2 linked regions of the Homo sapiens genome follow. The protein of the gene in region 2 purifies or fractionates together with the protein of the main gene of each other region. This does not show direct contact. Each region holds a gene or a part of one and is shown on either strand. Other genes may lie near its edges. The genes, in order: TMEM192 and TMEM106B.

What was found.
Region 1: the proteins of TMEM106B (region 2) and TMEM192 purify together in Homo sapiens (affinity purification with mass spectrometry; 2 studies listed by BioGRID and IntAct, with this or other methods). This does not show direct contact.

Annotation. Positions count from the first base shown.
Region 1 is NC_000004.12:165,102,328-165,110,419, forward strand, and holds part of TMEM192 (transmembrane protein 192), read right to left. Parts: intron 770-8,092; coding exon 623-769; intron 1-622.
Region 2 is NC_000007.14:12,206,068-12,214,601, reverse strand, and holds the start of TMEM106B (transmembrane protein 106B), read right to left. Parts: upstream 3,309-8,534; 5' UTR 3,177-3,308; intron 402-3,176; exon of another isoform or gene 208-401; intron 1-207. UniProt on the Homo sapiens protein: In neurons, involved in the transport of late endosomes/lysosomes. May be involved in dendrite morphogenesis and maintenance by regulating lysosomal trafficking.

The sequences.
Region 1 (8,092 bases), on a different chromosome or scaffold from region 2:
TAGTATTCAAAAGTAAACAGTAAATTATATTAGTGTCTCTTCCACCAAGACCCTCAGTCCTCATTTCAGAGGCAACTAGGTCTGTGAATGCTTCTAGAAATATTCTATTATATACAGGAAAACAGGTCCACAACAGCCCTCTCAACTCCCTTTTAAAAACTGCAGATAGGAACATTCTGTACACAAGGTTGAAAACTTGATTTTTTTTCACTCGACAATGTAATCATGAAGGCTATTCTATGTTAATATACTGTATACCTATCCACCCCATTCTTAACAGTTGCATAGCATTTCCTTATATGAATGGGACACACAGTGTCTTCTGGATGCCAAGTAGCCAGGTAGTTTGTAGTCTCTTGATATGACAGACAACATGGCTATTATCAACAATATCTTTACATGTGTGCAAATATATCCACAATGAATTATTTGAAGATATAAGTAAAAGTGTACGTACTTTTTTTTTTTTTTTTTTGCCCATGACACAGCACTCAGGATGTCCTAAGAACATGTGCCCTACATTTTAAATGTTGATAGATACAGCACAACTGCCCTCTGAAACACTTATATAATTTTTACAAACATCACCTCTGGATAGGTCCCCTTCTTGCAGCCAACTTACATGAATAAACCACAGAAGATTCACTATGATGACTGTAGGAAGAGGATGGAATCGGGGTCTAAAGTGAGCTTGTAATGAGTGGTGTGGGAGAAGCTGGGCATCCAGAAGTGGGTCGTCTTCAATACTCTGGGTGATATCCAAGGAACCCTGGGGTGCAGAAAAACAAGCAACCTATAATCACCACTTTCTAGATTATGTTTCTAAGACAAATCTACTAAACTACAGAGCTTTTTAACCACATACAAATTAAAGGCAAGAGAACACATTGCCTACCTGAATCCAATTTTTTAAAAATTAATTATTAATTTAATTTAATTAATTAAAAAATTAATTAATTTTTTAAAAACTGTAGCAACACGGTCTCACTATGTTGCCCAGGCTGGTCTTGTTTGTTTGTGTTTTGTTTTTTGTTTTTGAGACAGTCTCGCTCTGTTGCCCAGGCTGGAGTGCAGCGGCGCAATCTTGGCTCACTGCAACCTCTGCCTCCCAGGTTCGAGCAATTCTCCTGCCTCAGCCTCCTGAGTAGCTGGGACTACAGGTGTGCACCACCACACCCAGCTAATTTTTTTTTTTTTTTTTTTTGAGATAGAGTTTCACTCTTGTTGCCCAGGCTGGAGTGCACTGGCACAACCTTGGCTCGCCGAAACCTCCACCTCCCGGGTTCCAGCAATTCTCCTGCCTCAGCCTCCTGGGGTAGCTGGGATTACAGGCATGCACCACCACACCCGGCTAATTTTTTATTTTTAATTTTTAGTAGAGATGGGGTTTCTCTATGTTGGTCAGGCTGGTCGCGAACTCCTGACCTCAGGTGATCCGCCTGCCTCGGCCTCCCAAAGTGCTGGGATTACAGGCATGAGCCACCGTGCCCGGCACACATCCAGCTAATTTTTGTATTTTCAGTAGAGGGAGGGTTTCACTGTGTTGGCCATGCTGGTCTCAAACTCCTGACCTCAGGTGATCTACCCACCTCGGCCTCCCAAAGTGGTGGGATTACAGGCATTAGCCACAGTGCCCGGCCCCAGGCTAGTCTTGAACTCTTGGCCGCAAGCTGCAATTCCAGCTACTCGGGAGGCTGAGGCAGGAGAATCACTTGGACCCAGGAGGTGGAGGTTGCAGTGAGCCGAGATTGCGCCACTGCACTCCAGCCTGGGCGACAGAGAGACTTCGTCTCAAAAATATGGATATATACTGCATTGTATATACTTTTAATTTGCTAAGAGTGTAGATCTTAAGTGTTCTCATCACATGTTAAAAAAAAGAAAAAAAGAATATGGTTCATGGGAAGCACATAACAAATCAGCAAATGAAAAGCATAGAAGACAATGCCAAAAAATTTAGGTCAGCTAACTGCACTACAATGAGACAGAAATGAAGGATTCATGAATAGGTTTTGGCTACACAGAATGAGAGCTCTTTATTTTGGAAGTAGGTAGTAGGACAAATGATGTAAGAGATGGCTGTTGATTGCTAAGATTACAAAGATAAGGACAGTAATCTAGGGTGTAACCTAGCTCTGGAGTGGGCTCCTCAATTTCCAGTAGCAGGTATTCAACACTGCTCTGCAACTGTTTTTGTTGTTTTGTTTGTTTGTTTGTTTTTGAGATGGAATCTCGCTCTGTCGCCGAGGCTGGAGTGCAGTGGCTCAATCTCGGCTCATTGCAACTTCTGCCCCCTGGGTTCAATCGATTCTCCTGTCTCAGCCTCCTGAGTAGCTAGGATTAAAGGCACGCGCCACTATGCCCGGCTAATTTTTGTATTTTTAGTAGAGATGGGGTTTCGCCATGTTAGCCAAACTGGTCTCAAACTCCCAACCCCAGGTGATCCGCCTGCCTCAGCCTCCCAAAGTGCTGGGATTACAGGCATGAGCCACCGCGCCTGGCCAAGTCTTTTATTCAATGCCTAGATTGCTTCCTGTTTAGTTTACCATAACTCATGGTACAATTCAGATTACTCCTGTTCTCTTCAAGACCCCTCTGCCTCTAGCTCATTCTCAGTCAGCAGATGTTGGAGCCTTGAGATCTGCTCTTCCCTTAGCTAATGTCTGTGCATTCTTTCATGCTCAGAAGGGGCAATTCCCACCACAGGGCCTTTCTGGATACCCCTAATCTGGATTGTGCCACCCTCCATGTTTTTCAAAGCATTCTGTGCTTGCCTCTTCTATCAAACTATCCTGTGATGGTCTCTTACTTATCTCTTCTCCACTAGACGTCATTGGACCCATTACCTTTACACCTCTTGTCTTTGTAATCCCAGCACTCAACACTATCTCATGGTTGTCACTCAGCAAACATTTGCTAGATGAATGAATGAGTGCCCCAAACCTGTTTCTGCAGTATTTTCTAATTCAATTATGGGCATCATCAAAGACCTGGGCTAATTAGAAGAGATTATCAGGACATACGGGGGATCAACTGTGACCAAAGGCAGTAAGAGCTGTGGTTAAGGTCAGGCTCCTAAGGGCAAACTGCCTGGATTCAAGCACAAGTTTTACCGCTTTCTAGCTGAGAGCAAGTTACTTCATCTCTCATGCCTCAGTTTCCACATCTAAAAAGGAGACTAATAATAGCACCTGCTTCGTAGCTCTGTCAGGAATACTAAATGAGTCACTACACATGCAAGTCCTCATGACACTGCCTGACGCACAGAGAGCACTCAATAAGTATTAGCCACTATTATTTCTTTATTAACTCTTTTCTCTTTTTAATATTTTTTAAATTTTAAAATAAAAATCAACAGGGTCTCGCTATGTTGGCCAGGTTGGTCTTGAACTCTTAGCCTCAAGCAATCCTCCCAAGTGCACTCCCAGTGTGCTAGGATTACAGGTGTGAGCCACCACACTTGGCCTTTTTATTAACTCTTACTTTTGACTTGCACCCCGCTATGGTCTAAATGTTGGTGTCCCCCAATAGTTCCCTGCTTTCCTTTGGGAAGTAATTAAGCCATGAGGGTTCCCCCCCTCATAAATGAGATCAGTGCCCTTATAAAAGAGGCTTGAATGAGCTCCCTTCCACCTTCCACTGCGTGAGGATGCAGCAAGAAGGCGCCATCTTTGAAGCAGAGAGCAACCCCTCCCCAGGGCTCTTGGCACCTTGATCTTGGGCTTCCTGAATCCGTGGCTGCCTTAATCTTGGACTTCCTGTCCTCTAGAACTGTGGTCAATACATTTCTATTTGTAAATTACCCTATTTGTATTTTACTATAGCAACCCAAACAAAGACACTACCCCTATAATCATTACCATTCTATCCACTCAGTGCTGGGGCATGATAAAAAGAGAAAAAATCATTACCATTCTAACTCCTAAACCTGTTATTTCCTCTCTATTCTCACTATCTTAGTCCAGGCCCTCCCATTTCTCATGGCCTTTTATTAGAAGCTTCCAGTCTTCTGGTCTTGGCAATCTCTTTCACTGCTCCAAGACAAACATTCGTGTTTCTCTCCTCAAAAACTTTGGGTAGCTCCCTATGATGGTCAATATTAAGTGTCAAATGGATGGCAAAGTATCGTCTGTGAGGAGCCAAACATTTGAGTCAGTGGACTGGGAGAGGAAGACCCACCCTCAATATGGGCAAGCACCATCCAATCAGCTGCCAATGCAGCTAGAACAAAGCACAGAATAGGCGTATAAGCAGCTTGCTGAGTTTTCTGGCTCTCTCTTTCCTGCGTCAGATGCTTGCCTCCTTAATTCCTGCCTTTGGACATCAGACTCCAGATTCTTCGGCCTTTGGACTCTGAAACCTGCACCAGCAGCTTGCCTGGGGCTCTCAGGCCTTCGGCTGCCGACTGAAGGCTGCGCTGTTGGCTTCCCTGGTTTTGAGGCTTTTGAACTTGGACTGAGCCACTACCACCTTCCCTTTCCCCAGCTTGCAGGTGGCCTATCATGGGACTTCACTGTGTAATCTTGTGAGCTAATTCTCCCTAATAAACCCCCTTTTTATATATACATATATCCTATTGGTTCTGTCCCTCTGGATAATCCTAATACGATCCCCAAATCCTCAGGACAAAGTCCAAATTCTTAGTCTATCGCTTTACAATCTGTCCCCAAGTAACTTCTCAGGATTTTTTTTCTCTCTTTTTTTTTTCTTTTTTTGAGACAGAGTCTTGCTCTGTCCCCCAGGCTGGAGTGCAATGGCATGATCTCAGCTCACTGCAACCTCTGCTTCCTGGGTTCAAACAATTCTCCTGCCTCAGCCTCCCAAGTAGCTGGAATTACAAGTGCCCGACACCTTGTCCAGCTAGTTTTTGTATTTTTAATAGAGACGGGGTTTCACCATGTTGGCCATGCTGGTCTCAAACTCCTGACCTCAAGTGGTCCACCCTCAGCCTCCCAAAGTGCTGGGATTACAGGTGTGAACCACTGTACCCAACCTTTTTTTTTAAAACAAAAACAAAAACAAAAAAAAAAACAGGGTCTCACTCTGTCACCCAGGCTGGAGAACAGTGGCACGATCTCGGCTCACTGCAGCCTCCGTGCCCCCCTCCCCAGGCTCAAGAAATCCTCCTACCTCAGTCTCACGAGTAGCTGGGACCAGAGGCACACTCCACTATGCTTGGCTAATTTTTGTATTTTTAGTAAAGGTGAGATTTCACCATGTTGCCCAGGCTGGTCTTGAACTCCAAAACTCAAGCAATCCACCCACCTTGGCCTCCCAAAGTGCTGGGATTACAGGCATAAGCCACCACGCCTGGCCAAGGATTTGCCTCTCACCATTTCCCTCCCTCCTGGTGCCGTCTGCTTATGATACCCGTCTTTCATGAAACACTTTCCATCTCTACACCAGCTCTACTTATTCTTCCCCACCTGTCAAATGCTTGTCCCAGCAAAACCGCCTTCTCTGCGGTGCCTTTTTAGCATTCCCAGCCCCAGCATCATTCCTACTGCACTCTTAATCTGACATTGTAGTTTTCATCTGTACAAGTTTGAGCTGGGTCTACTTTGTATCTTCCATGTCTCTATGTAACTTCTAAATATATAGAAGACATTTATAATAATGTTTAATGTTCACATGCTATTTCTAGCCTATGTCATGTCTGAATCAGTTTCAGTGGACTCAGTACAGCTCACATTTTCCTGCCTCTTAGCATGCCTTGTCATTTTTTATTGGATGCCAGATATTGCAAATTTTACCTCTGTGGGTGCTGGGTATTTTCTGTATTCCCTTTTTTTTTTTTTTTTTTTTTTTTTTTGGAGATGTAGTCTTGCTCTGTCACCCAGGTTGGAGTGCAGTGGCATGATCTCGGCTCACTGCAAGCTCTGCCTCCTGCGTTCACACCATTCTCCTGCCTCAGCCTCCCAAGTAGCTGGGATACAGGCACCCAGCACCACGCCCGGCTAATTTTTTGTACTTTTAGTAGAGACAGGGTTCCACCATGTTAACCAGGATGGTCTCGATCTCCTGACCTCGTGATCCGCTCGCCTCAGCCTCTCAAAGTGCCGGGATTACAGGCATGAGCCACCGCACCCGGCCATTTTCTGTAATCCTATATTCGTGAACTTTGTTCTGGAGTGCAGTCAAGTTACTTGGAAACAGTCTTGCTGTTAAGAAATTAGGTGGGCTTCATCTAAGGCTAATCTAAGGCCTCCACTACTGAGGCAAGACCTTTCTGAGTACTCTACCTACATGCTCTGTGAATTATGAGGGTTCCGTCTGGCTTGTGGGTGAAATAGGCAGTATTCTTGGCCCTGTATGGAGAAACTGTTCCTTCCAATCCTTTTAGGTGGTTCTTTATGAGGCCTCCAAGAGCTTCCTCATGCCCTGATTAGCACTCTACTGGATGCCTGGTAGGCGCAGGGCCAGGGGGCTCCCCGTGCATATCTTCAGAGTTCTCCCTCTTTGTAGCTCTCTCCTCTCTGGGTGCTCTGTCTTGTGAACTCCAGTTACCTCGATCTCCTAGACCCTCAACTCCATCTCCTCAACTCAGAAGTCTGCTGGGCTCTGCCTGGCTTCCCCCTTCCCTGTCACAGCCTGCACACTCTTTCAAGGCAGTAAGCCGGAGCAGTGATAGGGTTCACAGCATTTGTTTCCCATCTCTGAGATTGCTACCCTTCATTGTCTGATGTCCGGTATCTCACAAAGTGTTGTATCATACGTTATATCTAGCTTTTTGGTTGTTTCAGGCAGAATGGTATATCTATTCCCAGTTACTCCATGTTGGCTGGGAATGGAAGTCCCTACTGAACTCTCTTACATCTGTATCTGTATCATAACCTACCATACTAAGCACATGGCATTGAAATTGTCAGAATAAAATGTGCTTTACAAGGGCAGAGACTCTTTTATATTATGTCCTTTGTGCTTTTAACACTTGATACACAGCAGATGCTAAGGTGTTCAATATGCGTGTTGAGAGAAAGAAAGACTGCTCAACTTCTTGTATGCTTCAGACCTGGGAAATTTTTATTTATTTATTTATTTATTTACTTTTGAGACAGAATTTCGCTCTTGTTGCCCAGATTGGAGTGCAATGGTGTGATCTTGGCTCACTGCAACCTCTGCCTCCCAGGTTCAAGCAATTCTCCTGCCTCAGCCTCCTGACCACAGGCTGGGATTACAGGCATGTGCCACCATGCCCAGGTAATTTTTATATTTTTAGTAGATACCGGGTTTCGCCATGTTGGCCAGGCTGGTCTCAAACTTCTGACCTCAGGTGATCCACCCGCCTCAGCCTCCCAAAGTGCTGGGATTACAGGCGTGAGCCACCGCACCTGGCCAGACCTGGGACATTTAAACAAAGCTAGCATTGAAAACTTCACTATAAGACAATAATCTACTTTATCTCCTAATATGTCACTTTCATGCACCTTCTTCTCTCGCCTAAATGAGCTTTCTATAGAGCCCTACAAATATCCTCCCTTACCTTTTTCAGAATTCTATGCATCTTTCAAGGTCCTAACCAAGTTTATGTTCTCTATAAAACTGGCCTTGTTAAGTGTTTTCCTTCTGCTTTAAAATCCTATAAAACTTATTGCCCATAATATTCATTTGGAATATTTCTTATGCTGCCTTGTATTGTTTTCCTTTTCATGGGTGTATCTTTTGTTTTTCCTAACTACACTGAAGGAGTTGGGGACTATAATATGGTTCTTCTCTATGTCACTCAGGAGTATTTACTTTCCATTGAATCCTATAGGAAATATGCAGTGTAACCATACAAACAGCACCCAGTCATTCTATTAACTCACCATCTGCAAGTGAAGGGTGAGGGGAAGAGGACTCCTGAATCCAAATGATTTTTTCATTTCCATTATTAACTACATTACCACCTGTAGAAGATGTCTGTTGTTTTTGCCCACATGGTATCTCTTCTCTCTTCTGTGACAATAACTCTATTTCCTTTGAGGACCCACTGTCTACTTCTGCATTAAGTCTTAGTGGAACCATCCTTCAATACCCTTCCTCCTCCTCTGCTCTAGGAGTGGTCATGGAACAAAAAACAGTTGGGTGAATCCAACTCTTTCCATGAGCA
Region 2 (8,534 bases):
GTTGGGTTACAGCTTGATTATACATTTTGGAGACAGAAATTACAGGCAGAGGCATAAATCAATAGATGTAAGGTATACATTAATTCAGCCCAGAAAAGCAGGACATTTTGAAGCAGGGGTGGAAGGCTGGGGGGTGTCCAGGTCATAGGTGCATAGGTGGATTTAAAGATTTCCTAATGGCAATTGGTTGAAACGGTTAAACTCTACCTGAGGAGTTGAAGTCAGCAGAAAGAAATGTTTGTAGTTAAGACAAGGGAGGAGGATGTGGAAGCCAAGGTTCTGATTATCTAGATGATGCCTCCAGGTAGCAGGCTTCAGAGAGAATAGTTTGTAAATGTCTCTTATTACTCCTTAAAATATTCCAGGCTCTTGGTTAAATCGCTGCTGAATTAGGAAAAGATCTGGAAAGGAAAGGGGATTCTGTACAGAATGTGGATCTTCCCCACGAGAGACAGCTTTGCAAGGCCATTTCAAAGAAATATATTTTGGGGTAAGATATTTCAATTTCTCTCAGGGCCTGCTATCTGTCGAGTGATTCTATATTAGAGTCAGGTTGGGATTTGATATCTTATTGCTACAAAGAGACTCTTGTTAGTCTTCAAATCTCTGTTTTAATTGATGCTGGTCAGTTGTGCCTGAATTCCAAAGAGAGGAAGGTACAACGGGGCATGTTCAATCCCCTCCACCCACCTTTTCATCATGGCCTGAACTACCTTTTTAGGTTTACTTTGGAATGCCCTTGACAGAGAAGCGGGTTCCACTTAGTTGGGGGGCTCAGAATTTTATTTTTGGTTTACAGAACAAACATTAAGAGAATGTTCAAACTACCTTTTGGATTATACCTTTTGGATTAGGATTATATCCAATCAAAATAATGTCTGAAACAAAGGAGCCATTTACTAGAGTCCAGAAGTGTTTTTTTAAACAAATAATGTGAAATGATGTCCTATCATGCTTATGATGAGAATGGGCTTTCAAACATTAACATTTGACAAAAGTCTACACCTGCAGGTTCTCTGAAAAGAAACATGCAGGTTTCATTTTTCTTAAAATAAAATAAAAATACATTCTACCTTTTAACTAGTTAGCACTAAAGGCAAAAATTGCTTTGGGTAGACGATAACTAGGTATTTGATGTATATCACCAAGTAACTTCAAAGTAGTACGTTTCAGCCTCTGAAAATTCACGCACCTTTGTGATAAATACAATCACCACTCTTTTCCATCCTTAAATTTCTTGCTTTAAACATTTAAACACTCGCAACAACAATAAAAAGCCCCAAAATTCCAAAATCACAGTTTTTTTTTCATTCAACAGTTGACAGTTAAAATTATGAAGCCAATGTTCCAAAATATTAAATATAAGTTACCAATACAAAGCAGCAAAATTTAGAACACTAACTTCAAAAATTTTAGGATAAGAGTATCAAAATAACAATACAAATGTAAAAATCTAAGTAGAAATAAATAATTAGTACTAGTGCCTACACAAAAATAACTTCTGCAGGTAGATAATGAAGTAACTTTATACTTAAGGTCATACCCTTTTAAAGCTGAAAAGAACTTAACAGTCATATAATACACCCTGCTGGTATTTTCCTGCTTATATCCTGAGAAAAAATAAAGTGAAAAAGTAAAACTGAAAAATAACATAATTATACTCCTTCTAAATTTGATATGTCTTTTAGCGGTTCCTAAAAATAGATTACATACATTCAGACAGATAGTATTTCTTTCAAAAATTCTCACTTATTTGATTAAACAAAACAGACATTCCAAGTAAGTCAGTTCATCCTAGAGTATGAAGAAAATTTTACTTTCTAGAACTGGCATGCCTGATAGGAGCCTGCTTGGTGGGTACAATGTGTGTTGCTCCAGTGCTGGATGCACTAAGGGCTCTGACTTCACCAGGATGTTGTGTATCAATGTAGCAAATGGCACTTGTACTCCATGAATATACACAAAATAAATACAAAGATAAAAAAATAAATAAAATTCGCATGCCATCCACTTGTTGCTGTCACTCAAATAAACAGAATTTAAAAAACTATACAAATGGTATGCAAACAAATGTAAAATGAGATTTTCACTCTTTCAAAAAAAAAAAACTATGTATTTATAAAAATCACTGCCCACATCAAAAATACAAATGATTTATGACTTCTAAAAAATCATTGTCTTAATCAACACCTGTCAGCCACAGGTAGGATAGGGAAGACTTAACATCACTGTCCCCACACACTGTAACCTTGGGGTCTATGCGGAACACTAGATGAATTGGGATCATTGGGCCTTATCAGCAAGGCCTTAAGGGCACTCTTTCTGGGATCTCAGTCAACACAGCCAGGCTGTAAGCTGCATCTTAACTGGAGCGCGTTGAGAAAAAAGACACAGAAAGGCAGACTCAAGTGGCTCTCCGTTTGAGCCTGTTTTCTGTCCTAATCTAATAGCTGCCATGATCGATTCTGCTTTAGGGTAGGTGTTTGGACAAGTGCCAGACTCTGTGAGAAACTGGGAATCCCTTGCCTTCTCTACTAGATTTTCCTTAGAGAACTGACAAGTGTAACCACTTTTATTCTTGGGAGACTCAATGGTTTAAAAAAGGGGTGCTAGACCCTCTTCTGCAACCTCTGTGGGCTCAGTGTTATTTATTATAGCGGTTCCTTAGTTTACTGAAAGTCAACATGGATATCAGACTCAGTTTGGAGAGAAAAAATATATCACAGCACTCCAATTTAAATGGCTCCTGATCTTCTGTGTAGACACTGGTTTTAGTTCTAAAAGGGCTTGAGAACTAAGGAAACAAGCGCCTTTGAAAAGCTCCATAAACAACACCTAGCACAAAGCCTACTCTGTAAAGCTGCAAAATAAGATCCCGGCACCACGGCAAGAACATTCATCAACAGCAAAAGGAAGAGGGCCACCTGGCGCTCAAGGTGTGAGGGCCTAGAGGCAACCCAGAGGTAGGGCTTGGGCCGAAGCCGAGTGTTCCCTGGCTGGGCCTCATTAGAGGCGACACAGCAACTCGATCACCAGCCCTGACCGCCGCCGTACCTGCGGCTGGCCCAGCACCCCAGCGGCCTCCCCTCCTTGTCAGGCCCGGCTCAAGCCGCGGCGCAGCCGCTCAGCCTCGCTCCGGAAGGGGACCTGGGGACTGCACGTCCGGGGTCGCTCACCGGCACGCGGGGCGCTGCGCAGTCCCGGGCTGCTTCGGCGCGGACAGGGCCGAGGACAGGGTCGTGGAGTCCACAGTCCCGGGAGCCGGGGGGTGGAGCGACCGGCCTGGAGCGCGCGGCCGCCGTAGAGCTGGGACGGGGGAGGGGTAGGATAACGACGGCATCAGCAGAGGCCAAGCGCTGCTGTAACCTGCGTCCGCGCCTGCGCAGAGCGCTCCCGGAGGGACACCCCTGGCGTGCGCGTGACGCATGCGTCCTTCTTCCTCCTGTTTGAGCCCAGAGGCGTCGATCGTGTGAGATTGTGCGCTCTTCAGGTTTCATTACCTTCGCGTCCCCCAGACTTCAAAGTGTCCACTGTAGCCACGAATTACCTAGGAACAGTCGCTCCTCCTATTTCCCATATCAGACCATTTCCTTTTGCAAAGGGTATAAATGTGCACCATCTGCCTCAGCTTTCAGCTGAGCAGCCTCCTCGCTCACGCAATGCGAGTTGTCGCTGACAGTCTGGTCCTTAGGAATGGAATAAACTGGTCCGTACACACGCCGCTGACAGCAGCAAAGCTACCTCTATTTTAATTTAGAAACTGGCCAACTAGAAGGAGACAGCAAGCGGCAAGGCCGTAGTTTTTGTTTTTGCTCGGTTTCGTTTCGCTTTGCCCACGCTGCCCCTCCCCACCCCTTAACTCTGGTGCTAGTTACAGGTGTGTGAAATCCCGTCTCGGATCCCAGTACTTAAGCTCTTCGCTGTGGGTTGGGGCTGCCCTCCCCCAACGTCTAGGTCATTTCACTTAGAAGATAAGAACAACGACAAGGAGTCGTTTTGAGGGATCAATGAGATGCCGGTAATAATATTAAGGGCACTCTAGTCTCATTCCTGCGGAGAGTTTAACGTTTAATGAATGGTAGGCATTCTTACAGTCACAGGAGCAAGGAAGTGAGAGTCATATATTTCTCTCTTCTAACAGGATCAGTGTGATCCTGTTAGAATCAGGGAATTCTAACAGGAATTGGGAAATGAAGCTATGTAAAAGTAGGAAATACAAGTCAGAACGATATACAATTTAAGAGGATTACTGTAGATCCATATGTGAGATAATGAGCTTTCTCATACAATGTTGTCGGAGATTTAAAACTCCTAAGTTTTCTGGCAGACAGTCAGTATGTATCAAGACTATTAAAATGTTCACATCGTTTGGTCCAGCAATTCCACCCTTTCAGAAGTATCCTAAACCTAATGAGAACTCTAAAAAGATTTGGGTATGAGGTGTATCCATTTAAATAAACTGAATGTCCAACAAGGGACATTGATAAAATCATTATTTTTCAACCGCTTTTATTTAGCCCATATTTTCCAAAGGGAAGGGTCAGGGTGTCTTCCATTAACACTGTTTGAAATTTCAAAATTAATAGGTTGGTTAAAACAAATCAGAATCATGGGGGAAAATTTTTCTCAAAATTATTGACAGTCCACCTGTGGAGATATGATGTTCCCCTTGGAATTACTGAGTTTTTAAAATTATGGAATAGCCATCTATTGAGTTTTTATAAAGCCAGTAAAAACCATCTTATAAGGCTGTTATACGCGGAGTGATATAAAATTAAAATCAGGATGCAAAGTATAGGATATGAGGTATTGTAATAGGATGTAAACTATATTCACATATAGATAACATATAGATATAAATATATTACATATCTGCCTTGAAATGGAAAGAAATATACAAAATATAAACAGTTGCCTGTAGTTTGAGAGCATGGATGTTTTTTCTTTATTATTGTTAAATAGGCAAATGGTTCTATAATGTAATATATATTATTCTTAAGTGAAAAAGTTACTTTTTTCTTTAATTCTTAAGGGAGTATTTAGTATTTTCTCAACCTCATCATTTAACTTAAAACGTGCTGGCCATATAGCACAGTTCCTTATCCAAATTCCTGGAATTCACATAGGAATAAGTCTTCCTGGGAGAATGTTGCTGTAAGAAGCAGTTCAGTAGCAGGGTTGGGAACACAGCCTTGGGAGCCATATGGCCTGAAAATGAGCCCAGCCTGACAGAGATATACAAAATCTCTGTAAGAGTGGGCAAAATACTTAGCCTTCTTTATACCTAATTTTTATTATCTGCAAAATGAAGATAGTAATAATGTCTGTCTCAAAGGGTTATGGATGGGAGCTGATACCTGCAGAGCAATCAGTAAATATTAGATATTATGATTACAAATTTATCATCCATATAACAAGGAAGTACTTTAAAGACAGATATTGAATGTTTGGTACATTTGTTCCTATGCCTTATTTTTCATTGAAGCACATTTTGAAAGGAAAATTTTCTGAAAAGCTTCCAATTATTTGATTAACAGTGATTTCTTGAGTTCCGAGTTCAGTAGTGGTCTAGGTGCTATCAGATATAAAGGCCAGTAATTTTAACAGTCTGGGATAAGTTTGAATAGAAGAACATTCTTTCTTAATGATTTCTGGTTATATTTAGTATGATGCTGAAGCTAAGGGATTTCTCTAGGTTGTACTAAATCTTGAAAACAGCCTTATCTCTCATTTCAATTCTCTTTTATCTCTTTTAATGGTAAATCACCCAAATCCTAATAGCAGTCAGCCATAACTAAAAATTTTGCAAAAATTACTTTTCTAGAAATTAGCTGTTAAAAATTATAAGCAGAAAAGGAACATAATTATTTTGAAACATATAATTTGTCAAATGTTAATATATAAGTCTCTCTCAGCTCACCCCCTTCCACTGATATGCTGGTCAGATTATGTTAGAAACCTGGATAGGTTACATTGGAAACCAGGGATTGAAAAGATTGAAGTTTGTCTGGCTGATTTTCAGAGATAGTGCCCCAGATACATAGCAAAACTACCATTAGCAAAACTACCATTTCCCGCTGTGCCACCTGACTTACATTCACAGGCAGTAAACTCCTGACTCTATTGACACATCTTTGTCATTCCAATTATTTTAAAAGCAGAGGTCTTTATTAATTTCTGCAAATAACTTACCTATCTGAAACTCTTGGTTATGTCTCTGTACTCCTTCTTAGGCAGGATCTTCTATATTTCCTCTGTCTCATTCATCTTGCTTCACACCTGCATGGAGCTAATCTTTCCCATGTGTTAAAACTTTCTTTCCCAAATATTCAAGTCATCTTTTGTAGGGTTTTTGTCATAATCATAATTTCTAGTAAGAATAATTTTAGGAGTTCAATAACACTTGGCCAATGAATGAATTTGTTGTGCCAGGCATTGTGTAAAGTAGTTTATATCATCTAATTTTTATAGAAATGCTATGGATTAGGTTCTGTTATTATCCCATATCTTATTTCAAACAGTGGAAATAGAGGATCCTAGGTATTATGACTTGCACATGACCACACAGCTAGCAACTAGAACTCGGATATTTTGACTGCAAAGCTACAGCTATTAACCACTGTGGCATGAATATCTGTATTAAATTTGGAAGAGTGAATTCTGTCCTCAACTTTTACTACACAAAGATAAGTGATGACGGTGAGTAAAGTTAACTGGTTAGGGGGGGAAAAGAGGGTATTTTCACTCTTTTGCTAAGTGATCATCACTGCTGCTGAAAAGAGGAGAATTGGGTCCAGAAATCCTTGAGGAGGTGTTCCGAATATAAAATAAGGAAAACACAGAGTCCAATTAGGATTTATGTTATAAAAGACTGTTTCTTCACAACAAACACAAGCTAGAGAAGGTTTTTTTTTTTTTAAACATTTTTAAAAAACTTATCAAAGAAATGAGGACGCAAATTTAAGTACACTTAAATCCAAAAGATAAGGAGAGCTTCCTAAGAGAGAATAGAATTAGAGTTGCTTTAATCACCTACAAAACAGTGGGAGAAGGAGGAATGCACCATAAACAGGGCCGAAGGGAGACCTGCCGAATGACACCCCTGTGTGTGGACCAGGATGATAGATTACAATCTCATGTCGTTCCAGTGATAGAACGAGTGTGCACTCACTCTCCAATTCTCTCCTAAAGGTCTTCATTAAGTGCTCAAATGTCATATGTTAAAGGCATGGGGTAGGGCATGAATGCTGAAGAAATTTCTTTGCAGATTCTAGGCCTTTAACCAGTGTACTGCAGCAGCTCTGTGAAGGCTGGAGGCAGGGTGGCAGGCTGCCCAGGATTCTCCTGAGGCACAGAAATGACCGGCAAGACTGGAGAGTAAACAGAACAACCTGTGGAGATATTGGAAGCTAGGTGTTTGAGCTAAGAAAGTATTGAATAGTTTGGTGGAATGAGCTAGTAGGTGCACATTAATCTTGAGATTTTGCCAGTGCCAAGAACTCAAGCATATTTGAAAGCAATAGTAAATAAACTGAATCAAAACTTCAACAAAACCCAGAATGTGGGTTTTTGACTCACTGTTGAAAGATTTGATTCAGCCTTCCAAACAATAATCTTGATAGAAAAAATGGCAAGATGTTTTTTGAGGTACATGTTATTTACTGTTTTCTTTTATACAATATCTAGCATATAATAAAGATTATGAGACATGAAGGAGCAAGAAAATGTGAGCCATGGTCAAGAGAGAAAATGATTAATAGGGGAAAATACAGAAATGGCCCAGATTTGGTATTATCTGGCAGAGACTTTAAAATCACTTTGATAGATATGTTAAAGCATCTGTATAAAAAATGGAAAACATGCATGAACAGACAGGGAATTTTAGCAAAAAGATGGGAACTATTTATAAAAAGCAAGTTGAAATATTAGAAATAAATATTAGAAGTAAAAAGTTCACTTTTTAGCATTATCACCAAATTGGACATAACAGAGGGAAAAAAACCTGTAAACTTGAGACGGTCAGTAGAAATTATATAAACTGAATATAAAGAGCAAAATCAAGGACAAATGGAAGGGAGCATCTGATATCTTTAGGATAATATCAAATCATTTAGCACATATGTACTTGGAATCCAAGGAGCAGAAAGGGGATAGAAGAAATATTGAAAAGATAAAAACTTAGAAATCTCCAAAACTGACTGAATATGTAAATCCATATATTCAAGAAATTCAGTGAATCCTAAAAACAAAACAAAACAAAAAACAAATTTAAAGAACACTAAACCTAGGGAAACAGCAAATAAAAAAACCCTTAAAATTAGTCTTAAGAAAGATATACATTACATACTGGGAAACAATAATAATATCACTACTAATTTCTATATCAAAAGTGATGGAGGCCATAGAAAATGGAATAGCATATTTGAAGTGTCTAAGAACATAAAATATATCAATTTAAATTCAATGTCTAGCAAAAAAAATTGAAAGCAAAAGAAAGCTATTTTCATACAGACAGAAGCTGAGCAAATTTATTC